Homo sapiens: one gene and its partners. The gene in region 7 interacts genetically with the main gene of each other region. Each region holds a gene or a part of one and is shown on either strand. Other genes may lie near its edges. The genes, in order: KRAS, FDPS, GNL2, RIT1, EGFR, EIF3C and XPO1.

Evidence for each region.
Region 1: changes in XPO1 (region 7) and KRAS are lethal when combined (synthetic lethality), as found in Homo sapiens cells (2 studies listed by BioGRID, with this or other methods).
Region 2: changes in XPO1 (region 7) and FDPS together harm fitness more than expected from each alone (negative genetic interaction), as found in Homo sapiens cells (one large-scale study listed by BioGRID).
Region 3: changes in XPO1 (region 7) and GNL2 together harm fitness less than expected from each alone (positive genetic interaction), as found in Homo sapiens cells (one large-scale study listed by BioGRID).
Region 4: changes in XPO1 (region 7) and RIT1 together harm fitness more than expected from each alone (negative genetic interaction), as found in Homo sapiens cells (one large-scale study listed by BioGRID).
Region 5: changes in XPO1 (region 7) and EGFR together harm fitness more than expected from each alone (negative genetic interaction), as found in Homo sapiens cells (one large-scale study listed by BioGRID).
Region 6: changes in XPO1 (region 7) and EIF3C together harm fitness more than expected from each alone (negative genetic interaction), as found in Homo sapiens cells (one large-scale study listed by BioGRID).

The regions. Positions count from the first base shown.
Region 1 is NC_000012.12:25,226,735-25,230,853, reverse strand, and holds part of KRAS (GTPase KRas), read left to right. Parts: intron 1-3,441; coding exon 3,442-3,620; intron 3,621-4,119. UniProt on the Homo sapiens protein: Ras proteins bind GDP/GTP and possess intrinsic GTPase activity. Plays an important role in the regulation of cell proliferation.
Region 2 is NC_000001.11:155,314,747-155,318,865, forward strand, and holds part of FDPS (farnesyl pyrophosphate synthase), read left to right. Parts: intron 1-2,107; exon of another isoform or gene 2,108-3,194; coding exon 3,195-3,275; intron 3,276-3,422; coding exon 3,423-3,545; exon of another isoform or gene 3,546-3,650; intron 3,651-3,918; coding exon 3,919-4,007; intron 4,008-4,109; coding exon 4,110-4,119. UniProt on the Homo sapiens protein: Key enzyme in isoprenoid biosynthesis which catalyzes the formation of farnesyl diphosphate (FPP), a precursor for several classes of essential metabolites including sterols, dolichols, carotenoids, and ubiquinones.
Region 3 is NC_000001.11:37,568,868-37,572,297, reverse strand, and holds part of GNL2 (nucleolar GTP-binding protein 2), read left to right. Parts: intron 1-2,995; coding exon 2,996-3,430. UniProt on the Homo sapiens protein: GTPase that associates with pre-60S ribosomal subunits in the nucleolus and is required for their nuclear export and maturation.
Region 4 is NC_000001.11:155,901,350-155,904,849, reverse strand, and holds part of RIT1 (GTP-binding protein Rit1), read left to right. Parts: intron 1-45; coding exon 46-119; intron 120-347; coding exon 348-539; intron 540-3,500.
Region 5 is NC_000007.14:55,158,209-55,162,327, reverse strand, and holds part of EGFR (epidermal growth factor receptor isoform a precursor), read right to left. Parts: intron 2,190-4,119; coding exon 1,990-2,189; intron 830-1,989; coding exon 697-829; intron 1-696. UniProt on the Homo sapiens protein: Receptor tyrosine kinase binding ligands of the EGF family and activating several signaling cascades to convert extracellular cues into appropriate cellular responses.
Region 6 is NC_000016.10:28,710,085-28,714,709, forward strand, and holds the start of EIF3C (eukaryotic translation initiation factor 3 subunit C), read left to right. Parts: upstream 1-1,379; 5' UTR 1,380-1,434; exon of another isoform or gene 1,435-1,572; 5' UTR 1,573-1,602; coding exon 1,603-1,703; intron 1,704-3,616; coding exon 3,617-3,682; intron 3,683-3,824; coding exon 3,825-4,014; intron 4,015-4,236; coding exon 4,237-4,362; intron 4,363-4,551; coding exon 4,552-4,606; intron 4,607-4,625. UniProt on the Homo sapiens protein: Component of the eukaryotic translation initiation factor 3 (eIF-3) complex, which is required for several steps in the initiation of protein synthesis.
Region 7 is NC_000002.12:61,531,421-61,535,539, reverse strand, and holds part of XPO1 (exportin-1), read left to right. Parts: intron 1-861; exon of another isoform or gene 862-1,117; intron 1,118-1,636; 5' UTR 1,637-1,642; coding exon 1,643-1,768; intron 1,769-4,119. UniProt on the Homo sapiens protein: Mediates the nuclear export of cellular proteins (cargos) bearing a leucine-rich nuclear export signal (NES) and of RNAs.

The DNA of each region.
Region 1 (4,119 bases), on a different chromosome or scaffold from region 7:
CCTCTTATTTAGAAAATAAATATCCATCTTTTTTTTCTGACTGGTGAGATAATTAATTTTTATTACAGATGGTTTGGAAAATACCATATGCTTTAAAAGATAAGCACAAAATTATAGTCTAATATGTAGGTTTTCATACTTTAAAAAATTGAAAACCAAAGAAAAACATTTAACATAGCATCTAGTACAAAGAAAAGAGATAAGCAAGAGATAAATGTCTTTTTTGGGACAGAGTTTTGCTGTTGTTGCCCAGGCTGGAGTGCAATGGCACAATCTCAGCTCACCGTAACCTCCACCTCCCGGGTTCAAGTGATTCTCCTGCCTCAGCCTCCCGAGTAGCTGGGATTACAGTCATGCACCACCAGGCCCAGGTAATTTTGTATGTTTAGTAGAGATGGGGTTTCTCCGTGTTGGTCAGGCTGATCTCAAACTCCCGACCTCAGGTGATCTGCCCACCTTGGCCTCCCAAAGTGCTGGGATTACAGACATGAGCCATCGCACCCGGCCAAGATAAATGTCTTTTAAATTATCTCCATTAAAGACATAACCTTTATAACATTTTGATGTATATATTACCAGTTTTTAAACACATAGTAGATTTGTATAAATACATAAACACATATTATTGTGATCATGCTGCACTTAGACATCTTTATATTCTCCTTATACTGTAAACATTTTGAAATACTTTACTAACAACATTTGTAATGACCATTCTTTCTCTCTTTCTCCCTCTGATAGAATGGTCTACAGAGTAATTCATAAACTAAACATACTTTAGAGGCTGGGCGCAGTGGCTCATGCCTGTAATCCCAGCACTTTGAGAGGCTGAGGCGTGCAGATCACGAGGTCAGGAGTTAGAGACCAGCCTGACTAACATGGTGAAACCCCATCTCTACTAAAAAAACAGTACAAAAATTAGCCGGGCGTGGTGGCGTGCACCTAGAATCCCAGCTACTCAAGAGGCTGAGGCAGGAGAATCACTCGAGCCCAGGAGGCAGAGGTTGTAGTGAGCCGAGATTGCACCACAGCACTCCAGCCTGGGCGACAGAGCGAGACTCCATCTCAAAAAAAAAAAAAAAAGATACATTAATACTATAGCCTACATGTGGAACATTAAGAAAATAATTGCTTTTATGTTTATGCTTTATACCTGTTGTTAGCCCTGCTTCTTATTTCATGATTTCATGGCTTCACATTGTAACATCCCTTTACCATATTTTTTGAGGACTGTTTTGGCAGAATGTGTGAAATCTTGAGCAGAAGTATTACCCAAAAGTCAGAAGAAAATCAGATTTTTATTTCAAGATTCTGTTAAAGTTACCCACTCCCTTCTTTTACTTAATCTTATAGTTGCAGTTCTCTCTCTTTTTAGAAAAGAAAAAAGAGGCCCCTCAGGATTTGCAGATGAAACAATATTGCTCTTTAGAGATATCCATCTGGCTGTTAGATTATTTTTCCACAGTTTTCAGAAGTGGATGAGGCCATTAGAATCTTGAGTATTGCCCATTTCCTTATGTGTGCCTTTGACTATAGATAAAATAGATGCATGACAATTATTTATAAGTTGATTGATTTTTCTTGTCATTTAAATCATCTTGAATAATAGAGTTGGTAGAGCTATCCCATTTTTGAAATTATTTTGTTTTGTCAATAACTTTTTGTTACCAGCATGTACACTTGCATTGTTGACTCTCCATATAATACCTTTAAAAAATTTTTTTTTGTGGTAAAATATGCATAACATAAAGTTTACCATGGTAGTTTTCTTTCATTTGTTTTGTTTTTGTTTTTTTGAGACGGAGCCTTGCTCTGTTGCCAGGCTGGAGTGCAGTGGAGCGATCTTGGCTCACTGCAACCTCCGCCTCCCGGGTTCAAGCAATTCCCCTGCCTCAGCCTCCTGAGTAGCTGGGACTACAGGCGCCCGCCACCACGCCCGGCTAATATTTTGTATTTTAATAGAGATGGGGTTTCACCATGTTGGCCAGGATGTTCTTGATCTCCTGACCTCATGATCCGCCCACCTCGGCCTCCCAAAGTGTTGGGATTGCAAGTGTGAGCCACCGCGCCTAGACCATGGTAGTTAATTTTAAGTGTTCAATTCAGTGACCTTAAGTGTGTTCATAATGTTGTGCAACCATCACCATGTTGTCTAACCATTAGCACTATCTGTTTTGAGAACTTTTTTTTATCATCCCAAATTAGAATTCTGTACCTGTCAAATAGTCCCCAGTAATCCTCCCTCCCCCAGCCCCTGGTAATCTGTAGTCTACTTTTCGTCTTTTTGAATTTGCCTATTTTAGGTTCCTCATATAAGTGGAATTATGTGGTATTTGTCCTTTTGTGTTGGCTTACTTCATTTAGCATAATGTTTTCAAGGTTCATCTGTGTTGTAGCATGTATATACAGGTTGAAGCATCCGTTATCCAAAATGGTTGTGACCAGAAGTGGTTTGGATTTCAGATTTTTTTTTTGGATTTTGGAATATTCATAGATACTTAACTGGTTCAGCATCCCTCGTCCAAAAATCCAAAATCAGATGGAGCTCAGTGGCTCATGCTTGTAATCCCAACACGTTGGGTGGCCAAGGCAGGAGGATCGCTTGAGCCCAGGAGTTCAACCAGCCTGAGCAACACAAGACCCTATCTCTCCAAAAAAAAAAAAAAAAAAAAAAAGATGAAAGAAAAAAAAATCCAAAATCAAATGCTCCAGTGAGCATTTCCTTTTAGCATCATGTCAGGCTCTAAAAGTTACAGGTTTTGGAGCATTTTGGATTTCAGATTTTTGGATTAACCTGCATTAATGCTCAACCTATATGAAATTTTATTCCTTTTTATGGCTGAATAATGTTCCACTGTATGTATATACTACATTTTGTTTATCCATTCATCTGTTAACAGACACTTAAGTTATTTCCACATTTTGGGTATTATAAATAGTGCTGCTGCGAACATTGGTGTACATGTATCTGTTTGAGTCCCTGTTTTTAGTTATTTTGGTTATATACCTAGGAATGGAATTGCTGATCATATGGTAATTCTGTGTTTAACTTTTTGAGGAACTACCACTGTTTTCCACAATGGCATCACCATTTTACATTCCCACCAGCAATGCACAAAGATTTCAGTGTCTGTATCCTTGCTAACACTTATTTTCCATTTTTTGAGTTTTTTTGTTTTGTTTTTTTAATAATAGCCAATCCTAATGGGTATGTGGTAGCATCTCATGGTTTTGATTTTATTTTCCTGACTATTGATGATGTTGAGCATCTTTTCAGGTGCTTAGTGGCCATTTGTCCGTCATCTTTGGAGCAGGAACAATGTCTTTTCAAGTCCTTTGCCCATTTTTAAATTGAATTTTTTGTTGTTGAGTTGTATATAACACCTTTTTTGAAGTAAAAGGTGCACTGTAATAATCCAGACTGTGTTTCTCCCTTCTCAGGATTCCTACAGGAAGCAAGTAGTAATTGATGGAGAAACCTGTCTCTTGGATATTCTCGACACAGCAGGTCAAGAGGAGTACAGTGCAATGAGGGACCAGTACATGAGGACTGGGGAGGGCTTTCTTTGTGTATTTGCCATAAATAATACTAAATCATTTGAAGATATTCACCATTATAGGTGGGTTTAAATTGAATATAATAAGCTGACATTAAGGAGTAATTATAGTTTTTATTTTTTGAGTCTTTGCTAATGCCATGCATATAATATTTAATAAAAATTTTTAAATAATGTTTATGAGGTAGGTAATATCCCTGTTTTATAAATGAAGTTCTTGGGGGATTAGAGCAGTGGAGTAACTTGCTCCAGACTGCATCGGTAGTGGTGGTGCTGGGATTGAAACCTAGGCCTGTTTGACTCCACAGCCTTCTGTACTCTTGACTATTCTACAAAAGCAAGACTTTAAACTTTTTAGATACATCATTAAAAAAGAAAACCATAAAAAAGAATATGAAAAGATGATTTGAGATGGTGTCACTTTAACAGTCTTAAAAGCAATCGTGTGTATAGCATAGAATTGCTTGGATTGGATAAACAGTGGCATTATATATTTTAAAAAATAAAAGTTTTGAAAGATTGAAGAATTTGGGCATTACAGTTCTCTTAAATCTGACAAAGC
Region 2 (4,119 bases), on a different chromosome or scaffold from region 7:
ATAACAGGTGTGAGCCACTGTGCCTGGCCTGGGTTTTTTTTTTTTTTTTAATTTCCCTAATAAATAGAAAGTGCTGGTGGGGTTAAGAATCAGTGCTAGGAGGCAGAGGAAATTTGGGGAGGCCATGGAATTAATTATCTTGGAGACCATCATGGTTGAGTGGTGGTGGCTGAAACAAGATTGTCCTTGCAGTCACCCTTGGGAGAGGCAGTGAATGGGTGGCTTCAGGGAAACCATGCTACTCCAAATAAACACAGAGTCAATTAAACATGTGCCTTTGATGTGGAAAGCCCAGGACCTCCACACTACTCTTCTGAGTTTAGGTCAGAGGTAAAGATGCAGATGGATGCCTCCTTCCCTGAGGACCCTGCCTATAACAGCAGTGATTGCAACGGTCCTTTCCCCACGGCCCATGCTGGGCTCTGGCAGGCGGTGTTGCATGCTTCCTTTGCAATGTGGATCCACTACAGCACACAGGATTAGGATGGGATAAAGTCTTAAAAACCATGTCTTCTAGGCCAAGTGTAGTGGCTCATGCCTGTAATCCCAGCACTTTGGGAGGCTGAGGCAGGTGGATCACCTGAGGTCAGGAGTTCGAGACCAGCCTGACCAACATGGGGAAACCCCATCTCTACTGAAAATACAAAATTAGGCTGGGCGCAGTGGCTCATGCCTGTAATCCCAGCACTTTGGGAGGCTGAGGCGGGCGGATCATGAAGTCAGGAGATCGAGACCATCCTGGCTAACATGGTGAAACCCCGTCTCTACTAAGAATACAAAAAAAATATTAGCCGGGCATGGTGGCAGGCGCCTGTAGTCCCAGCTATTTGGGAGGCTGAGGTAGGAGAATGGCGTGAACCTGGGAGGCGGAGCTTGCAGTGAGCTGAGATTGTGCCACTGCACTCCAGCCTGGGCAACAAGAGCGAGACTCTGTCTCAAAAAAAAACAAAAAACAAAAAACAAAAAAAAAATTAGCCAGGCGTGGAGGCACATGCCTATAATCCCAGCTACTCAGGAGGCTGAGGCAGGAAAATCGCTTGAACCCGGGAGGCGGAGGTTGCAGTGAGCCAAGATCGCGCTATTGCACTCCAGCCTGGGCAACAAGAGCGAAACTCCATCTCAAAAAAAAAAAAACACACAAACCATGTCTTCTGCTCAAGCCTGGGTGACAGAGTGAGATCCTGTCTCAAAAGAAAATAATAATAAAAATTAAAACCTGGGTATAGGGCCGGGTGCATTGGCTCACACTTAAAATCCCAGCACTTTGGGAGGCCAAGGTGGATGGATCACGTGAGGTCAGGAGTTCGAGACCAGCCTGACCAACATGGTGAAACCTTGTCTCTACTAAAAACACAAAAATTAGCCGGGTGTGATGGCACGTGCCTGTAATCCCAGCTACTTGGGAGGCTGAGGCAGGAGAATCGCGTGAACCCGGGAGGCGGAGGTTGCAGTGAGCCGAGATTGCGCCATTGCACTCCAGCCTGGACAATGAGAGTGAAACTCCATCTCAAAAACAAAAACCTGGGTATGTATCTAGAAGTGGAAAAACAAAAAAAGGAAATAAGTTATGAAAATAAAAACCATGTCTTGAGCTGGGTGCGCTGGTGTGTGCCTATATCCCTAGATTCTCAAGAGTTGAGACAGGAGGATCACTTGAGCCCAGGAGTTCAAGTCCAACTTGGGCAACATGACAAGACCCTTGTCTCTTTAAAAAAGCAACCCAAACCATGTCTTGAAAAGCTATTTAATGGTCAGACACGATGGCTCACGCCTGTAATCCCAGCACTTTGGGAGGCCGAGGCAGGCGGATCACTTGAGGTCAGGAGTTCAAGACCAGCCTGGCCAACATGGCAAAACCCAGTCTCTACTGAATGAAAATACAAAAATTAGCTGGCCTAGCAGTTGGTGGTGGCAGGTGCCTGTAGTCCCAGCTACTTGGGAGGCTGAGGCAGGAGAATCGCTTGAATTTGGGAGGCGGAGGTTACAGTGAACCCACATGGCGCCACTGCACTCCAGCTTGGGTGATAGAGTGAGACTCTATCTCAAAAAAAAAAAAAAAGAAAAGCTATTTAAGGAACCAAAACATAGTTTGACTGACTGCAAGAAGTATCACAGGGAATGTTAGAGTGTTTTATTAATTTCTTTGTCAGACAAGTGTTTAGGAAACTCTCACTCCAGGCCTAATGCTGTGCTAGGCTCTGCAAATGCTAAGAGGGGGAAGTTACTGTCCCTGCTTCCAAGGAGATCATGGTCTAGTGGGAAACCCGACACGTTCAGGTACCTTCAGATGGGCACTCAGAAGAGTAAGCCCTTAGTTAATGTTTAAAGATGTTTAAAGATGTCTGAGACTCATAGGTCAAAGTCAGATTTCAGTTCCACCTTATTAGACCTGCACTGCTAAGGAGCTGCTTTAGGTAAGGCTGTGTTCCTAGTCACCAGGGTGTTCAAACACAGTGCTGGGGGCAATGTGGGAATAGCCTTCTTTTATTTAGGAAGTAATGTGAAGTCAGTTTCATGAATAGATCTTACTTTAAGCATTCATTGAGGTTTTTGGCAAGAATAGAGTACGGTATATGAAGGTGTTTCCTAATCTCCCTGACACCAGGAATAATCTAGGGCTCATTAGAGATGTCAAAGATCTGTTCTAGTTTCTTAACCTAAAACAAGAGTGTTTTAGTTCCATTTTATAGGCGGGGAGTCTGAGCCAAACATGTTATGTCACTTTCCAAGTCTCCATAGCACAGAAGTCTTCTGTCTCCCCATCCTGACTTTCCCAGCTCATAGGGACTGTCAAAGGCAGCAGCTCTGGCCGGCTGTGATGCCTCATGCCTGTAATCCCAGTAATTTGGGAGGCTGAGGCAGGAGGATCATTTGAACCCAGGGGTTCAAAACCAGCCTGAGCAACATAGTGGGACCCTGTCTCTACAAAAAATAAATTAAAAAAAAAAAATAGCCAGGCATGGGGTATGTGCCTATGGTCTCAGGAACTCAGGAAGCTGAAGTGGGAGGATCACTTGAGCCTGGGAGTTAGAGGCTACAGTGAGCTGTGACTGCACCACTGCACTGGATAATAGTGAGACTCTGTCCCCTACCAAAAAAAAGCAAAACTATATACAGATATAAAGTAGCAGCTCTGTTGCTGATAGAAGGAACAGTAATGAGGAGCCCTGCAGGTCTTATTCCACTCTTTCTAGCTGCAAGCTTTCTTCCTGGTGGCAGATGACATCATGGATTCATCCCTTACCCGCCGGGGACAGATCTGCTGGTATCAGAAGGTAATGTGGGCAGGAAAATAGCAGTGGGTATGGGGACAGGCCACAGGGAGGTGGTTATATATGGCCTGGTTGAGGTGTTGGGGTGATGGCTCTTAGTATGAACCGAGACTAGAGATTGATTGCTTGTTTTTCTGTCTGTCATGACAGCCGGGCGTGGGTTTGGATGCCATCAATGATGCTAACCTCCTGGAAGCATGTATCTACCGCCTGCTGAAGCTCTATTGCCGGGAGCAGCCCTATTACCTGAACCTGATCGAGCTCTTCCTGCAGGTGTATTGCAGACAGGGCCCGATGCCCAGAGGGTGCCCATGGTAGCCTTGGCCTCTATAGGACATGCTCATCTAGCTGGTTTCAGGGTACAGGATTGCAGCGTGCCTGGAAGGGAAAGAAAGCGAGGAAGGGTGTTGGGAAGTGGGGTTGTGGTAGTGGCAAGAAAGGGCTTCTCTGTCCTGTGTAATTGGAAGAAAGGGTGATAAAGGACTGTGTGTATGAATATGGGCCTTAAGTTTTGGGGCTTTCTCCCCTTCTGTTGCCTTTCTGATTCTGCCCAGTTGTCAGCTGGTATGGGATGTTGGGCTTGGGATACCAGGGTTTCGCATATCTGGAGAAAGCCTGGCTCATGGACCGTCTTTGTCTTGCTTAGAGTTCCTATCAGACTGAGATTGGGCAGACCCTGGACCTCCTCACAGCCCCCCAGGGCAATGTGGATCTTGTCAGATTCACTGAAAAGAGGTGAGGGGAGGTGAGGGACAGCGCGAACCATGTCTGGACAGCGAGGGAGGGCTCAGGATGTGCATTGCCCTCCTGAGGAGTTTCTCTTCTCCCCTTACTCAGGTACAAATCT
Region 3 (3,430 bases), on a different chromosome or scaffold from region 7:
CATCGCTTGGGAAATTCCAAGGGTCTTAGGAGCTCTGTGCCAGGAAGTGTGACATTTATATCACAGGGAGACAGTAGGCAGATAAACATATAATGTCAGGAAGTCTTGCGTGCTGTGAGGAAAACTAAACCAGGCTAAGGGGTTTGGGGGAGATGAGGAGTACTTTGGGGTGGTCGGGGAAGGCCTCTGAGGCAGTGGCACTTCAGCAGAGCCCTTAATATGAGACAGGAGCCATGCTAGTATCTAGGGAGAATGTTCCAGGCAAGGGGAACAGCACATCCAGAGCAGCTGGGGCAGGAGTATGCTCTGTGTGTCCTGATGCTGAAAGGAGGTCACTGTGGCTGGAATGTCGTGGGCCAGGAGAGGGTGTCATGGTGGGAAGCCATTGGAGGTTTTGAGTTAGCAGCTGGATTCTAGGGTCATTCTGGATGTCCGTATCACTGCTGTCTTGGGACCCTGTGTGGAAACACTGGCATTGTCTTCAGCCCTTCCTCCGTATGTAGTCAGTAAGTGTAGATAAGTAGTTCAGATAATTCTTAAGAACTATTGTAACCATAATAGATTTGTTGCCCAATGCACACAGCAAGTCAATATGCTGAGACACCACCAGGTTGCAGCAGAGAAAGAAGTTTAACCGTAGGGTCACCAAAGGAGGAGATGGGAGGAATCCTGAAATCATTTCCACGAGGAGTTTGGGGTTAGGGTTTTAAGGGTTTTGGAGTGGGCTGGAGTGAGGGTCATTGGTTGGGTGAAGAGTGCAGGGTGAAGTCACGGACAGGGAGATGAAGAAGCTGTGTTCTCATGCAGATCCCGTTTCTCTGGGGATCTTCAAACTGGTTGCTGGAATTAGGGATCTGAAAAGACATTTTAAGCAATCCTTAAACAAAAACCTTATGATTCTAATGTCAGAGATCTTGCCTATAGGAACAATGGGGGTGCATATCAATTCTTACATAGTCTTATGACCCAAATGTCAGAAATCCTATCTATAGGGACAGTGGGGATGCAAATGGTCAGTACCTAGTGTTCAGGAACTTTTAGCAACAAGGATATGGGCCAAAGTGCCCCCTAATTAGTGCTTAATTATAATTGTATTTCTGTCCAGAACTTGGCAGATACTTCTTGTCAACCCTTTGGAGGCAGTTTCACTCTCATATGCCTTACTCTGTGATTCTGTTTTTCTTTTTTGGTTAAGAGCAGAAACCCCTTCAGAAACTGAAAGCCAAAAATTGCCCTTCCTAGAAAAATGTATGTATAAATTTTGTGTGTGGTTTCCTGAATTTTATAGTTCTGTACTTATTTAGTGATTTGCCCGGCCACTCTTGACTTTAGAACATCACTTTTAAGTTCTCTGAGTTTTTGTTGCAAGGATAAAATGATATTATACATGTGAAACACCAGTAGAAAGCTTGGCACATACTTATCTTTGCGGTTACCTAAAACAGGCCAGTCATTTCAGGGTCCCCAGACTTAGTTCTCTAATGAACTCTCTTCAATCACAGAATTCCCCCTCCTTACCTTATACTCTTGCTTCAGGATGCCTCCTATCTTAGTCTGTTTTGTGATGATGCAACAGAATACTACAGATTGGGTAATTATAATGAACAGAAATTGTTTTGGCTCATGTTTCTGGAGGCTGGGAAGTCCAGTATCAAGGCACCAGCATCTGACAAGGGTCATCCCATCGTGGAAAGTGGGAGGACAAGAGCAAGCAAGAGAGGGTCAAACTTGCTTTTATAACAAACTCACTCTTTTTTTTTTTTTTTTTGAGACGGAGTCTTGCTCTGTTGCCCAGGCTGGAGTGCAGTGGCACGATCTCGGCTCATTGCAACCTCTGCTTCCTGGGTTCAAGTGATTCTCCTGCCTCAGCCTCCTGAGTAGCTGGGACTACAGGCATATGCCACCAGGCCCAGCTAATTTTTGTATTTTTAGTAGAGATGGGGTTTCACCATGTTGGCCAAGCTGGTCTTGAACTCCTGACCTTGTGATCTGCCCACCTTGGCCTCCCAAAGTGCTGGGATTACAGACGTGAGCCACCACATCCGGCCAACAGACTCACTCTTAAAAACGAACCCATCCCCGAGATCCATTAGTCCATTCATGGGGATGGAGCCCTCATGATCTAATTACCTCTTATTAGGCCTTACCTACCAACACTTGCTGCATTGGGGATTAAGTTTCTGTATCAGTCCATTTTCATACTGCTATGAAGAAATACATGAGACTGGTTAGTTTATAAAGAAAAAGAGGTTTAATGGACTCACAGTTCCACATGGCTGGGGAGGTTTCACAATCATGGCGGAAGGTGAAGGAGGAACAAAGGCATGTCTTACATGGCATCAGGCAAGAGTGTGTGTCCAGGGAAACTGCCCTTTATAAAACCATCAGCTCTCGTGAGACTTAATTCATCATAGGAGCGGCATGGGAAAGACCTGCCCCCATAATTCAATTACCTCCCACCCGGTCCTTCCCACAACACATGGGGATTATGGGAGCTACAAATCAAGATGAGATTTGGACACAGCCAAACCATACCAGTTTCCAACATATGAATTTTGGGGGACACATTTAAATCAGAGGACCTCCTCAAATGCCTCTCTTAGTACTGTTCTCATCTGTAACATCCAGCCTGGCCTTCATTTTTATGTAGTTGTGTGTGCTGATTTTGCATGTGCTTATATCAGCAGCCCCCTAGGGAAGGTCTAGGGAGCCTTGCTTTTCTATGATAAATCATTGGTTGGTTTTAATGGTTTAAATAGTCTTAGTTGGTTCATCCTGTGGAACTACACATGTATTCCTTTGATCCTAGTACTGATCTCTGGGCTTAATGTACATTGGTTTAAAAATACATTAATGAAATGACTCAAATTTGGGTGTTTTCAATACCTTCCCTTAGTCCTGAGAAGAGGACTGTTTAAGAGCAAGATATGAGTTCAGAAATTCCATTTTTCATTTTCTGATTCTATTTATTTCCCCCATTTCCACCCCTTAATAGCTTCTACCCTCCTCATCTTTGGAAGTTGTCCCAGAAGCAGCCCAGAACAATCCAGGGGAGGAAGTCACAGAAACTGCAGGTGAAGGGTCAGAATCCATCATTAAGGAAGAAACAGAAGAGAACAGTCACTGTGATGCTAACACAGAGATGCAGCAGATTCTCACACGAGTTCGGCAGAACTTTGGTAAAATCAACGTGGTGCCTCAGTTTTCTGGGGATGACCTGGTTCCTGTGGAGGTGTCAGATCTTGAGGAAGAGCTTGAGAGCTTTTCTGATGAAGAGGAGGAGGAACAGGAGCAACAAAGAGATGATGCGGAAGAGTCTTCCTCGGAGCCTGAGGAGGAAAATGTGGGAAACGACACCAAAGCCGTTATTAAAGCACTGGATGAGAAGATTGCCAAATATCAGAAGTTTCTAGACAAAGCCAAAGCCAAA
Region 4 (3,500 bases), on a different chromosome or scaffold from region 7:
TCCGGCATTTATGACTTTATAGTACACCTTTCTTCCCTCCTGTAGAAGATGCTTATAAGATCAGGATCCGTATTGATGATGAGCCTGCCAATCTGGACATTTTGGATACAGCTGGACAGGTATTAAATCCCAGAATGTTATGAGTAAAGGCTTTTTTACTCTAGCAAAGGGGAGGGGAAGGCCTACACAGAGAAGATCAATAGTTTATCTCTCTTAATTTTTCATGCACTCTGACTCAGGATAGCAGGTAATCGACATGCGTTTTCTTTAATCTGAAAGAAATAGCTAATTGTGTGTGTAGTTGGGCTAGATTGCGTCAATACATAATGACCCTTGTTTCCCTCTAGGCAGAGTTTACAGCCATGCGGGACCAGTATATGAGGGCAGGAGAAGGGTTTATCATCTGTTACTCTATCACGGATCGTCGAAGTTTCCATGAAGTTCGTGAGTTTAAACAGCTTATTTATCGAGTCCGACGTACTGACGATACACCTGTGGTTCTTGTGGGAAACAAGTCAGACCTCAAACAGCTAAGACAGGTGAGGATAGAGAAGAAAATACTGTCTATAATCTTATACAATTAGTCATTTTTGTTTCTTGGCTTACAGATTCTTGGCTTGGCTTACAGATTTTTTTGCCTTAAAATAGAAAATCAGGCTGGGTGAGGTGGCTCACACCAGTACTTTGCGGGGCCAAGGTGGGCAGGTTGCTTAAGGTCAGGAGTTTGAGACCAGCCTGAGCAACATGGCGAAACCCCATCTCTACAAAAAATACAAAAAAACATAGCTGGGCATAGTGGTGCATGCACATGTGGTCCCAGCTAGTTGGGAGGCTGAGGTGGGAGGATCCCTTGACCTGGGGAGGTGGAGGTTGCAGTGAGGTTGGGGCTACAGCTTACTGCAGCCTCTACCTCCCCAGCTCAAGCAATCATCCCAGTTCAGCTTTGAGGGTAGCTGGGACCACAGGCGTGTGCCACCACTCCCAGCTAATTGTTTTTACTTTTTGTGGAGACAGGATCTCACTATGTTGCCCAGGCTGATCTTGAACACCTGGACTCAAGTGATCCTCCTGCCTTGGCCTCCCAAAGTGTTGGGATTACAAGTGTGAGCCACAGCGCCTGGCTGGAAGTAGTTTGATAGTAGTCAAATTCATAATGCTTCTCTGTTAATCTCCATTGGAAAAAATTTATAGGGATTTATATATAACATGTTCATTGCAAGACTATTTATGGTAGAAGAAAATGAGAAACAATCTAGCTGTCCAAAAGTAGAAATTATGGCATATCCATAATTAGATGTATCAATTATGGGCTCCTAATAGTTTTCAATATTTTAGTGTAAGCATATATCTCTTTCCCTCCCTTTGTGTTTCTTTCTTTTTTTTTTTTTTTTTTTTTTGAGACAGAGTCTCACTCTGTTGCCTTGGCTGGAGTGCAGTGGCACAATCTCGGCTCACTGCAACCTCCTCCTCCTGGGTTCAAGTGAGTCTCCTGCCTTAGCCTCCTGAGTAGCTGGGATTACAGGCGCATGCCACCACGCCCGGCTAATTTTTTTTTGAGACGGAGTCTTGTCTGTCGCCCAGGCTGGCGTGCAGTGGCACGATCTCTGCTCACTGCAAGCTCTGCCTCCCAGGTTCATGCCATTCTTCTGCCTCAGCCTCCCGAGTAGCTGGGACTACAGGTGTCCGCCACCATGCCTGGCTAATTTTTTGTATTTTTAGTGAGATGGGGTTTCACCGTGTTAGCCAGGATGGTCTCGATCTCCTGACCTCGTGATCAGCCTGCCTCGGCCTCCCAAAGTGCTGGGATTACAGGCATGAGCCACCGCGCCCGGCCTAATTTTTGTATTTTTAAGTAGAGACGGGGTTTCACCATGTTGGTCAGGCTGGTCTCAAACTCCTGACCTCATGATCTTCCCACCTCGGCCTCCCAAAGTGCTGGGATTACAGGCGTGAGCCACCGCGCCCAGCTTTCTTTTTTTTTAATTTTTATTTTAATTTTGTTGTTTTGAGACAGAGTCTCACTCTGTTGCCCAGGCTGGAGTGCAGTGGCGCAATCTAGGCTCACTGCAACCTCTCTGACTCCTGAGTTCAAGCGATTCTCCTGCCTCAGCCTCCTGAGTAGCTAGGATTACATGTGCCTGCCACCACATCCAGCTAATTTTTGTATTTTAGTAGAGACGGGGTTTCACCATGTTGGCCGGGCTGGTCTTGAAGTCCTGACATCAGGTGATCCACCTACCTTGGCCTCCCAAAGTGCTGGGATTATAGATGTGAGCCACCACACCCAGCGTTTTTTTGTTTTGTGTTGTTTTTTAGACAGAGTTTCACTCTTATCACCCAGGCTGGAGTGCAGTGGCATGATGTTGGCTCACTGCAACCTCTGCCTCCTGGGTTCAAGCAATTCTCCTGCCTCAGCCTCCCAAGTAGCTGGGATTACAGGCGCCTGCCACCATGCCCAGCTAATTTTTCTTTTCTTTTTTTTTTTTTTGATATAAAAGCATTTTTAAACTTTATTATTAATACTCAGGACATTAGGAATTTCCAGATTTTTTTCAGTAGCATTTGTAGAACCACTTTTGGTAACAAATACAGTAGTTAGGAATATGCATCCAGTTCAGAATGCATAATAATGTTTCTCCTGAATCCTTTCCGGCTAAAAACAGGGCTGGCACTGTGATGAGATATAGAACGAGAATCTACAAAAAACACTGTAACATGTTTGTTTTTTCCCAGAGGCTACATCCTCTTTTGCTGGAATACTTTATAAATACATATTAAAAAGTAAGGCAACAACTCCAAACAGTCCAAGCTGTTTGCTCAACTCTTTTCCCAATTAGATTTGCAATCCCGGTGATCAGTTTCATGGTTGTATTGTTTAGTGTTTCTTTCTTATTTTAGTAGAGATGGGGTTTCACCGTGTTGGCCATGCTGGTCTTGAACTCCTGACCTCAGGTGATCTGCCTGCCTGCTTCAGCCTCCCAAAGTGCTGGGATTACAGGCATGAGCCACCGCACCCAACTTTTTTTTTTCTTGAGACAGGGTCTTGCTCTGTCACTGAGGCTGGAGTGCAGTGGCGCAAACATGGCTTACCGCAGCCTTGACCTCCTGGGCTCAAGTGATCCTCTTACCTTAGCCTCCTGAGTAGCTGGGACCACAGGTGTATACCACCACATCCAACTAATTTTTTTTTCTTTTTTTGAGACAGAGTCTGGCTCTGTCACCCAGGCTGGAGTGTGACACCTGGAGTGCAGTGCCGCGATCTTGGCTCACTGTAACCTCCGCCTCCCAGGTTTAAGCGATTCTCCTGCCTCAGCCTCACGAGTAACTGGGATTACAGGTGCCCAACACCATGCCCAGCTAGTTTTTTTTAAGTGGAGACAGGGTTTTGCCATGTTGACCAGGTTGGTCTCGAACCCCAGACCTCAAGTGATCCACCTGCCTCAGCCTCCCAAAGTGTTGGGATTACAGGCGTGAGCCACCGCTCCTGGCCCCAGCTAAAT
Region 5 (4,119 bases), on a different chromosome or scaffold from region 7:
TGGTGCTCACCAAATTTCCCTTTTTCTTTAAATCTTCTAAAACATGGCCTTGGCCTCTATCCTTCAGTTTTACTTTCCTATTTATGTTTTGTCCTCATTTGTCGTTCAAAGCCTTACATCAATATCAAGAACCTCAGAGCATTCACAAACTGCACTTTTTATTGATTGCAACTAAATTCAACAAACATCATTATGAATTATTTCTTTGTCCGTGGGTATATTTAAAGTCCCTGGTACTGTTTGATGTTCAACACATGCTGGGGGCACATAAAACAGATATTAACTTGGCAATATAATTTGTGTTAATTTATTTTCACACACCAGGAATCGGGCACTACAAAGAAAAGCCCAAATGGCCACGGTGTTGGCTAGATGAACCATTGATGACTGTCTCATTTGTCTTAGGAACTTTTTGTAGCTTAGAAAAATTTAAGATACTTCCAGGAAAAGAGATTCTATAAATTATTGGATTATATTAGGCAATAATACTTGCTTATTTCCTATTGTGCTTAAATTTGCCAAAAATAACGCAATCAAACAACTTCCCGTCTCCCCACAGAAAACCCAAAACCTCCAAAAGCCAAGGGCAAAGAATAAAAGGAAGAGAAAATCAAACAGAATGCCTGTAAAGCTATAACAACAACCTGGAGCCTTATTTTTGATCAACGCAAGGGGATTAAAGAAATAACCTCCTACCCCTCCAGAAGGTTGCACTTGTCCACGCATTCCCTGCCTCGGCTGACATTCCGGCAAGAGACGCAGTCCCTGGGCTCCGGGCCCCAGCAGCCCTCGGGGGAGCACAAGGCATGGCAGACCTGGCCTGTGGCCTCTGCGGAGACAGAGTGGGTCACAGCAGTCAGTGACAGAGCAGGGACCCGAGGGGCCGGAGGAGACGGCACCTTCCCGGGAGGGGCCCTGTGCTCCATGACCTTGGGTGACACAGACATGCTGGCTACCCCTGAAGGAGGAGGACACAGACTGGGCTTCCCAGAGGCCGACCGTGACTGGAAGGACAAAGTAGTTGTGCTGGCTGCTGGGAAGACTGAAATGTGCCTGACAGTGGAGGACAGGTCTTCCTCCTGGTGGGAGCCAGGCACCCTGGCACCCGAGAGGGGGTGCCGTGAGTCCTCCCCTTTGGCAATGGCATCAATTAAACCAGATGGGACTCCATGTTTTCTGTGCTCCCACGGCCACTGCCCCTGCTGAAGGAACCAGGTGTGCAGAGGAGCAGGTGCTGCTGGGCACAGGGTGTGTTTTGATGGTACCCAGGGCAGCCTGGAGCAGAGCTGGTGGTGTTCTGATGACAAATCCCACAGCTGATAGGAGCCATTGGGCCATTGGCTGTGTGCTGTGTGCTAGGCACCATGGAAGGGTTTTACACACAGGAATTTCACTGAATTCTCTCAAAGCACTACGGCGTAGGAATCATTCATATCTCCATTCTATGGATGAGGAAGCCAAAGCCTAAACAGATTAAGGGAATTGACAGAGGCTCAAAGCTAGGGAGGCCAGACCAGCACTTGACTCAAAGCTGACGCTGCCCGTGGCCAAGGCCCAGCACAGGCCAGGCTCTCACCAGCTTCAAAAGCTGAGGCTCTAGAGCCAGAACAGGAAGTGTTGATGTAAAGTGCTCATTCCATTCCTCTGTGTGTGTATGTGTGTAGCTGTAGTCTTTACAGGCTGAAATGAGCAGAGAGTGACCTACAACTAAAAGGTAATATAACTAATACTAAATTTAGTTACTTACATTACAAATAATTGGTAGCCTAAACCTCAGGGTAAATTCATCCCATTGAATGGTAATGATCTGGAAAAAGTTTTAATGGAATTCACATGGTAATTTCACAGTTAGGAATCTTAAGATTTTAATTTGCTTCTTAAGGAACTGAAAAAAGTAATTTAAATGGGAATAGCCCTTCAATATTCTAAATACAAATAAAGGACCCATTAGAACCAACTCCATAAACTAAACAGAAAGCGGTGACTTACTGCAGCTGTTTTCACCTCTGTTGCTTATAATTTTGGTTTTCTGACCGGAGGTCCCAAACAGTTTTTTCCAGTTTATTGTATTTGCATAGCACAAATTTTTGTTTCCTGAAATTATCACATCTCCATCACTTATCTCCTTGAGGGAGCGTAATCCCAAGGATGTTATGTTCAGGCTGACGACTGCAAGAGAAAACTGACCACTACATTGGAGAGAAGAAAAATCATGTGGTGAAAAATTATAAAAACAATGTATCCCTGAAAACTTTGTTTCTCCAGACCACCTTTGATTGACTACAAACTGCTTTCCAATGATGGTAGGTCATGCTGTGGGAGGCACACACTGCACCTTTTGAAAACTGCAGGTGTTTTTAAAGTTCCTCCAGGCAAAAGATAGTTCCTTGTTTATTTAGTATCTTTAACCCAGTGGCAGATGGGGAGGATGAATAAAATGCCTTAATGTCATTATATTTTCTCCATTTTCATTTTGCCTGGAAATTGAGAACATATTCTAACCTCTCAAACAGCCAAATACACTTCAAAGGTGTGGGTTCATCCATCTATCCACCACCCAACCTGTCCCTCTATCCATTCATATATTTATTGAACAAACACTAGAGGTTCTCTGTCCCAAATTCTGTGCAGGTTAAATATGTTTCCTCCTCTCCAGGACGCTTGATCTGGTGGTGACACAACCCCGTAAGCAGATCATTTTGAGCCGGTGTGAAGAGCACAGTGAGTGTGGGCAACATGGAAGCAAAGAGCAGGGGCCTCTGACCAGGTCTGGGAGGGATGCCTGGGAAGTGGGGCCTTCCTCCAAAAAGCTATGCCCAAGGTTGTGAGGCCCTGAAAGCAGTAACTGTGGCATTTTCTTCACCATCCAACATGACACTAGGATGCTATTGGGTGGTCCAATGTGTATATCAGATGACTGGATGGAAGTCATTCAGACCGAAGGGGGGATGTCCTCAGCCACCTGGAGGAGCAGGAAAGCACGCGGTGGACATGAGAACCACTAGCCCCAGCCAGACCACGATGGGTGTGAGAACCACTAGCCCCTCCTGAACCACGATGGGTATAAGAACCACTAAGCCCCTGCCGGACCACGATGGGTGTGAGAACCACCAGCCTCTGCCAGACCACGATGGGTGTGAGAACCTCTAGCCCCTACAGGACCACGATGATGCAGGCTGGGAGGGCTGGGCTGGTTTGGGGAGGGAGCACAAGGCCAGAGTGCACCTTGTGGAGGAGCTGTCTGTAATTGAGAAGGAGCCACAGGAAAGAGATCTGCATTTGCAGGAAGCTCTCATCTGACCCCAGGCTGGGGGCTGGGCCAGCTGAGAGCACTGGATGAAGAGACTGATGTTCAGGTGTTGGATGGCAGGGGGTTAGAGTATCATCCAGAGGCTTCTCCTCTCCCTGCTGCTCTTCTTTCCCCCATCTTTTTCCTTTCTCCTACACAGATGAGTGGTCTCGCATAGGAGCCTGTAACCAATACCATTAGGAATTCTCCCCCACATATGCCCAGGGAGGCCAGGACACCAGGGCAGAGCCAGGTTTTCCTTGCAGGGCAGGTCTGGGGCCTCAGTGAGTCACACCCTGGAACGTGTGGCCACCCTGTCTCAGTAGGAGCTGGAATCACCAGACTTCTCATTAAATGTGAAAAGTAAGTAACCCTTATCTTGTTTAAATCCCTACAACTAAGCCAACTGGCTCATACCAGCCATCCAAGAAAATTGCTCTAAATCTCTTATTTTTATAAGAATCTTGGTCAAAGAAAGCATTCCAGAGAATTCAGAGCAAAAAGGCCTTTCTGGGAAGCAACGGTAGCCACATATTTAGTATCAGAGATTCAGAGCCAAGGGAGTTTATGGGAGGCAATGCATATTTCACGCACTCTTATTCTCTTTAATGTTGCACAGTATTATCTAGTGCTTTAAGAGTCAAGTAGGGGCAGCAGTTCTCATAACGAGGCTGCTTCCAAGGCGGGTTTCACTAAGAGATTCCCATCTCCTCCTCCACACCACTAAACTGATGATTACCATTACCATATTAAAGATGCTTGTGTGTGAGCACCTGCATGTCTATTCCACTGTCAAAGCTGAAAAAGTGGAAATTCTTGAAGAGTGGTGC
Region 6 (4,625 bases), on a different chromosome or scaffold from region 7:
TTCAAGCAATTCTCCTGCCTCAGCCTCCTGAGTAGCTGGAATTACAGGCATCTGCCACCATGCCAGGCGAATTTTTGTATTTTTAGTAGAGATGGGGTTTCACCATGTTGGCCAGGCTGGTCTCGAATTCCTGACCTCAAGTGATCTGCCCACCTCTGCCTCCCAAAGTGTTGGGATTACAGGCATGAACCACCATGCCCAGCCTCATATTAAGTTTTGACGGTGCTGGGTGGGTTGTGAGTACATAGATGTCCATTGGAATAGTCTTTATTCTTGTCTGTTGAAATATTTCACAATAAAAAACAAAACGGCCAGGTGTGGTAGCTCATGCCTATAATCCCAGCACTTTGGAAGAGCATGCTCTTCCCTTCCCAGCACTTCCCTGTCCCGCTCCCATATCAAAACCACCTTGAAAAATGTAACACAGTCCCTTGCACTAAAACCTCTGCCGATGGCGGCTCCAAACCACAGGCCTATAAAGACCTGCAAGATCTAGCATCGTCTACTTTTTTTTTTTTTTTTTTTTTTTTTGAGACAGAGTCTTGCTCTGTCACCCAGGCTGGAATGCAGTGGTGTGATCTCTGCTCACTGCAATCTCTTCCTCCTGGGTTCAAGTGATTCTCCAGCCTCAGCCTCCCACGTAGCTGGGATTACAGGCAGGTGACACTGTGCCAGGCTAATTTTCGTATTTTTTAGTAGACACGGGGTTTTGCCATATTGGCCAGGCTGGTCTCGAACTCCTGACCTCAGGTGATCCACCCACCTCAGCCTCCCAGAGTGTTGGAATTACAGGAGTGAGCCACTGTGCCTGGCTAGCATTGTCTACTTTTTTTTTTTTGAGATGGAGTTTCGCTTTTGTTGTCCAGGCTGGAGTCCAGTGGCTCGATCTCGGCTCACCACAACCTCCGCCTCCCGGGTTCAAGCGATTCTCCTGCCTCAGCCTCCCGAGTAGCTTGGCTTACAGGCATGCACCACCACGCCTGGCTAATTTTGTATTTTTAGTAGAGATGGGGTTTCTCCATATTGGTCAGGCTGGTCTCGAACTCCCGACCTCGGGTAATCCGCCTGCCTCGGTCTCCCAAAGTGCTAGGATTACAGGCGTGAGTGAGCCACCGCACCCGGCAGGATTATCTACTTCTATACTATTAATGCCTATTAATGCTGTAATTACACGCGTGAGCCACTGCGCCCCGCCGATCTTCGTGTTTTAAATCCCGACACCAACGCGCGGTAGGATTCGCGACGCCTGCAGCCAAGGTCTCAGCGCCCGGTTCCCTCAGGCTTGTCCCCGCCCCCTTATGGCGCGAAGGCCACTGGGAGTTGTAGTCTCCCAGTGTAGTTAGTCGGCGCTTCCCGGAAGTGACGCGAGGACCCGCCTTCTCTCTCGGCGTTTCCGCTGTCAGGGCCCTGCGGTGTGACTCGCGGGCTCAGCTGGTTGGTATTTTTTGGGCCTCGTGCTTCGTGGTGGGAGACCCAGGTCGAGGTCCGGGTGGGGCCGGTGAGGGGTTGGGCGTCGGGAGGTGTTGGCTCGGGCCTCTTCGCGTGGCCGGTGACGCCTTGGCTCCCCCGCAGGTCCGGCCGTAGCACCTCCGCGCCGTCGCCATGTCGCGGTTTTTCACCACCGGTTCGGACAGCGAGTCCGAGTCGTCCTTGTCCGGGGAGGAGCTCGTCACCAAACCTGTCGGAGGCAACTATGGCAAACAGTGAGTTGCGGGGGCTGTGGCTGTGACCATTCTGGGAGTGCGGGGTTAGGCAGGCTGTGGAACGCAGTGCACATGGGAGGGGATGGAGGTGAGGGCGGGGAGAGTGGGTTTGGACAATGACCAGAGTTTGCAGGATCGGAGCGGTGTTGGAGAGAGACAGCCTTAGAGGGCTGTGATAGCCGGTAGCCACCCACCAGGCACAAGGGATAGAATCACAGAGGTTTCCCAAGCCAGATCTGTTGCATCAGCTTCTTAACTGGCCTTAAGTCTACAGCCTCTACCTGTCTCCTCTCATTTTACCGCCGAGAAGTCCTTAGTGACTTCTCACTGCTCACAGAAGGAAATGCAAAATGCTTGATTGGTATCTGGGAGCCCCCTGATGCGACTCTGAAGTCTGGTCACCTGCTGTGTACGCAGGTGCTTAAACATTTTCTATGCCTGTTCACTTCTACGTAAATACCCATCCGCCATTTCTGTACATTAATTTTTTTTTTTTTACCCTTTGGAACAATAGAATGGTTTTTCTTTTTCCTTTTTTTTTTCTTTTTTTGAGGGGTCATAGCTCACTGCTGCCTCGACCTTCAGATCTCAAGCGATCCTCCCACCTCAGCCTCTCAAGTAGATGGGACTACAGGTGCACGCCATCGCAGCAGGCTAATTGTTTTTAATTTTTTGTAGAGAAGGTGTCTCACTGTGTTGCTTAGACTGGTTCTGAACTCCTGGGCTCAAGTGAACCTCCCGCCCAGCATTCTAAAGTGTTGGGGTTACAGGAATGAGCCACTGTGCCCCACTGGAATGGTGTTTCTTAAACATCTGCCACGTTTGTGCTACTGTTTTAAAAGTATGTATTGCACATGTATATGCCAATATGCATATGGTTTCGTATCACTTCCACAGGTGGAAACCAGTGTCATTTGCCATAAAATACCAAATAATCCAGGCTGGGCAGGTGGCTCAAGCCGGTAATCCCAGCACTTTGGGAGGCTGATTACTTGAGGTCAAGAGTTTGAGACCAGCATGGCCAATAAGGTGAAACCCCGTCTCTACTAAAAATACAAAAATTAGCCGGTTGTGGTGGCACATGCCTGTAACCCCAGCAACTTAGGAGGCTGAGGCAGGAGAATCTCTTGAACCTTGGAGGCGGAGGTTGTAGTGAGCCGAGATTGCGCCATTGCACTCCAGCCTGGGCGATAAAAGCAAAACTCCACCTCAAAAAACACCGCTAAAATAATCCAAAAAATAATAAAAAGGGAAAAGAGGCAGGCAAGATGGTGCATGCCTGTAGTCCCAACTACTCTGGAGGCTGAGGTGGGAGGATCCCTTGAAACTCAGGAGTTGGAGGCTGCCTGGGCAACATAGTGAGACCTTATCTCTTAACAAACAAAAAGAGTAGAGATACTGTTGCTGACTGTGAGCCTGTGGTCTGGTCTTATTATCGTAGAAAAATACTAGCAGTGGAGGTGTTAATACCATTGAGACTTTCTCCTTGCTGTTGGCCTCTCATACTTTGGGAAATGTTGCTAAGATCTAGTTTAGGTACCACCTCCCTAAAGCCTTTTCTGTTCATTATAGCTCAAGTATCATTTTTCTCTACCTCTTTTTTTATTCATTACTTCTGTGGTGACTTGTGTCTCTATGTCATTAGTTACACAGTAAATTAGCACTTTCATTTGTTTTTGAGAGGATAGTGAATGTCATCTTTGTGTTGCTACAACACTGAGCAAAAGGCCTTACTTAGTGTACACTTAAAAGATTGAGTTGTATATGAAGTGGCCCTGAGGAGGAGTCAAAAAGAGGATGGGTGTGGTGTGGATGGCCTGGATTACTTAGTTCTACCTGTCCTGAGTAGGGAAATACGGATCTCTTGGAAAGACTGGGAAAGGAGGTTAATGGCCTCTGTTCCTTCCAAACAGGCCATTGTTGCTGAGCGAGGATGAAGAAGATACCAAGAGAGTTGTCCGCAGTGCCAAGGACAAGAGGTAAAGCCATGGCGAGGCTGGGTGATGGGAGTCTCTGGGAGCAATGAAGCTGTGGGGAGGCTGGGTGATAGGAGTCTCTGGGAGCAGTGGTGAGTTTTCCCTCGGTGGGCACGTTCAATGTGGTATCGGGCTCCCAACCCAGGTTTGAGGAGCTGACCAACCTTATCCGGACCATCCGTAATGCCATGAAGATTCGTGATGTCACCAAGTGCCTGGAAGAGTTTGAGCTCCTGGGAAAAGCATATGGGAAGGCCAAAAGCATTGTGGACAAAGAAGGTGTCCCCCGGTTCTATATCCGCATCCTGGCTGACCTAGAGGACTATCTTAATGAGGTGTGATGCCTATATTTATTACCACCACTTATTCATGGTTTTGTACTTTTAGTGGTGGGATGTATAGGATCTTTTAAAAATAAGCTAACAGATGTAGTTAATAAGTAGTACCAGTGGTGTTCCAATAGCAAGACTCAAAAGTGGAGAAGAAGCCTGGAGTTTAGGAAATGTTACTTAGTTTCAAATCACTGTTCTCTGTTTCTTTCCTCTTCTTCCCTTTAGCTTTGGGAAGATAAGGAAGGGAAGAAGAAGATGAACAAGAACAATGCCAAGGCTCTGAGCACCTTGCGTCAGAAGATCCGAAAATACAACCGTGATTTCGAGTCCCATATCACAAGCTACAAGCAGGTGGGGAGGCTAGAGGCACACTTACTGAACTGGGAACAGTGACCCCGTGACTGAGGCCCAAAGATGGAATTGCTAGTGGGAGGTGTGACTGGAGCAGGAAGATGACAGAACTGTCTGGGGTGGAGGGGTGGGGTGGGCTGATGGCTGGACAGCGTCCATGATTGTTCTCTCACTTCCCTCTCTGTCCAGAACCCCGAGCAGTCTGCGGATGAAGATGCTGAGAAAAATGAGGAGGATTCAGAAGGTGAGCCAAAGAACCTTTG
Region 7 (4,119 bases):
TAAGCTGTTATAAAATAGCCAGGAATTAATGACTTTTTTTCCGCCCTGCCAAGCTAGTTTGTCTAAATATAATGTAAAGAAATTAGCTACTCATTTTCTGGTCCACGAAAGTTCCTAAAATGGGAAGAAGTGGAGATCTGACCTTGTTAGTTCTAAATACACTAAACTGGGAGTGCCATGGATGGCTTTCAGGATGTCCTGAATCCTCTATAATTGTATACAAAATCGTGAGTTTTTAAAAACTGGGTTAGAGCTATTGGTTCCTCAGAGTCTCAGGCATCTTAGACCCCCAAAAAGGTTAAGGACTACTGACTTAACCAATTAGGTTTGAGTGGCATTGGCTTTGAAGAAAAGCAGAGGAAAGATATATTTTATAATTCTGGGCAACAAAAAAGTGGATGTGTGCCAGCATCTTAGAGTAGAATCCTCTTAAAAGGATAGCACTGCATATGAACTAGTAGGTTTTAACCAGTGCATATTTAGGCGAAGTAGCTCATTTTTCTGTTAGAATTCTTTTTTATTTGGGAATGGGCAAGCTTTTACAGCTTTTACCTTGCCAATGAATACCTGGAATTTAAAAAATCTTGTTAGGCATATTGCCCATAAAGTTTTTTTTCCTAGATCATATATTCAGTAAATATGTTTGTAGCTTTATTTCAATCCCCCAATTCATTGAGGGTTGAAACAATTTGAATGGTTTGAGTGTAGAAGCTAAGTTATTTCTGTAGAGGCTAAGGGCATTTATACCAAGATATGTTAGACTTGTGGTTCCTGCTAACCATTGCTGTAGACAATAGGAATTACTGTATATCCACATTTTAATTTTTAACATCATTCTGTCTTTGTTTGTTTGTTTTTGAGATGGAGTCTCATTCTCTTGCCCAGGCTAGAGTGTGGTGGTGCATCTCGGCTTACTGCAAACTCCGTCTCCTGGGTTCAAGCAGTTCTCCTGCCTCAGCTTCCCAAGTAGCTGGGATTACAGGTGCCCGCCTCCATGCCTGGCTGATTTTTGTATTTTTAGTAGAGACGGGGTTTTGCCATGTTGGCCAGGCTGGTCTGGAACTCCTGACCTCAAGTGATTCGCCCACCTCGGCCTCCCAAAGTGCTGGGATTACAGGTGTGAGCCACCACGCTCGGCCCATTCTGTCTTTATAGCATTATTTTTATAAAGTTAAGATAATGTGAAGTGAGCTTTTACTGAGTTATTCAGAAGACCCTACTTGGGAAGAAAAGAAAATCACATTCACTTGAACTTAATCCTACTTGCTTAAAAAGTTTTGACATCAAGATACTGAACTGTATCACGTTTTAGGACCATAAAATCCTAATAGTGGATGCGTTTAAATAATAGGTTAGCATACTTTATAAATGTTAGTAGAATAGGAAAGTCTTCCTGGTGTATAAACTAAACACTAGAAAAGTTGAATGGACCATAATAATTTATGTAATTATCAAATAGCTAAGTAATTTCAGCTTTTGTTACTTGCTTTTACTATCTCAGTTTTCTGTAATTAAAGTCTCTAAAGTATTCATTAAAATATTTGTAATAACATGGTTGAAGTAAAATAACTTGTAGGAAGTTTTTGATAATACCAAAACTTGATAGGCAGCTTCAATTTTTTTTCTTTATTTTCAGTAATCTATGCCAGCAATTATGACAATGTTAGCAGACCATGCAGCTCGTCAGCTGCTTGATTTCAGCCAAAAACTGGATATCAACTTATTAGATAATGTGGTGAATTGCTTATACCATGGAGAAGGAGCCCAGGTAAAGTAGCCAACCAAAACTTTATAACATTATGACAGTGTAACAGAGTTGTTGGGTTTAGAATAAAATTTTAAATTATCACCTTTAAAAAAGATATTCCATAGTTTGCATTAATTTGGAATTCTGTATTAACCATAATGAAAATTGGTTTGGAGAAAGAAATTGCATGTTTGACATGGTTAGAGTGGGTTGTTTTGGAATATTATACTTGTTTTGTCCTTAAGAGCCAAATGTTATTAAATACTTTGTAGGTATTAAAGGTTCTCTGTACTTTTATATATACTTAATATGTTTGGCACTAATACGATTCTTCTACTTTTAAAACATTTACAGAAGTACTTCACAGATATGTTTGTTTAAATAAAAACAGGAATACCAAGTATTTTTATGTTAGTTGAATTTTGTGCACTTTTCAAAGTGGTACTGTTAATGTAGGGAATTATCTTAAACATAAACCAAATTTTGATCAGTTTAAGATTTTTGGTTTTTTTGAACCCAACTAAAAGGTGAAACAGAAATGTGTGTACAATTTTAAATTGTATATGTCACAAGAAAAAAAACTTGATTTTTTACCTGTGGGGCCAAACTTTTTTTTGAGACAGTCTCGCTCTGTGGTCCAGGCAGGAGTGCAGTGGCGCTATCTCAGCTCACTGCAACCCCTGCCTCCTGGGTTCAAGCGATTGTCTTGCCTCAGCCTCCCTGGTAGCTGGGATTACAGGCACACGCCACCATGCCTGGCTAATTTTTGTATTTTTAGTAGAGATGGGGTTTCACCGTGTTGGCCAGGCTGGTCTTGGAACTCCTGACCTCAGGTGATCCACCTGACTCGGCCTCCCAAAGTGCTGGGATTACAGGCATGAGCCACCGCGTGCTGGCCCAAACATGTTTTTGAATGAGTAAAAAGTTTTGCAGTTGGGTCAGAAATCTTTTTTTTTTTTCAGATGGAGTCTTGCTCTGTCACCAGGCCTGAGTGCAGTGGCACAGTCTCGGCTCACTGCAACCTCTGCCTCCCAGGTTTTCAAGCAATTCACCTGCCTTAGCCTCCCGAGTAGCTGGGACTACAGACGCGCCACCATGCCCAGCTAATTTTTTGTATTTTAGTAGAGATGGGTTTCATCATATTGGCCAGGATGGTCTCCATCTCCTGACCTCGTGATCCGCCTGCCTTGGCCTCCCAAAGTGTGGAGATGACAGGCATGAGCCACCGCGCCTGGCCAGAAATCTTTTATGGTAGTTTTGTTGCCAGAACAGTAGATTTCTGGTTAGATAAATGTTCAGCTAGTAGATGGGAGGTTACTTATATTGTCAAGATATTTATATTTGCATAATTAAGAAACTGAGTGCCGGCCGGGCGCGGTGGCTCACGCCTGTAATCCCAGCACTTTGAGAGGCCGACGCCGGCGGATGACGAGGTCAGGAGATCGAGACCATCCTGGCTAACACGGTGAAACCCCGTCTCTACTAAAAACACAAAAAATTAGCCAGGCGTGGTGGCGGGCGCCTGTAGTCCCAGCTACTCGGGAGGCTGAGGCAGGAGAATGGCGTGAACCCGGGAGGCGGAGCTTGCAGTGAGCCGAGGTTGCGCCACTGCACTCCAGCCTGGGCAACGGCATGAGACTTCGTCTCAAAAATAAAAATAAATAAATAAAATAAAATAAAAAAACCTAAACCTGAGTGCCATTACACTTTCTGAAAATATATAAGGTGGATACAGTACTATCTTTTATAGTAGTCCAAAAAGCATCATGTATAAATGTTTCCATTCCCTTATGAAATGCAACAGTACTGCTTTTACTATAGTAGAAACTTGAAAAAGGTCCATGGAAACGCTAAAAGTAGAAAAAATTACTCTTGCAGTGATTCTGTAAGCTTGTTAGCCCAGGTTTATACTTTTAGGGCGTTTTGATCAGTATATTATCTCCTAAAGCATTCTTGAAAAAATTAACCATCCGTATTTATTATCCCTGTCATTTAGTTGTTACTCATGCTATACATTCAACATGAAGCTTTAAGCTTCATTTCTTCTAGCATGGATGCATAGAAAGCAGCTGCTTTTGGAGGAAGCTATGAAAGTAAGGTTGGGTTCAACTCTGAATGTAATATTGGAAGCACAGGTCTGTAGCCATTGGGAAAAAGGGCATTTAATTTTTTCCGCATAGATTCAGCTACTAATACTGTTTAATCTTCACACTAAACTAGTTCACTACATCTAAAGGTATGATAAATAAACCAACATAGAGCAGTGTTCTTCATGGCTTGTAACAGAATTAGTGGCAATTTTTGTAATTGAGAATATATTACAGCAATACTGCTTTTAATAATGTTTCATAGTATTAAGAAATTTAATGGTT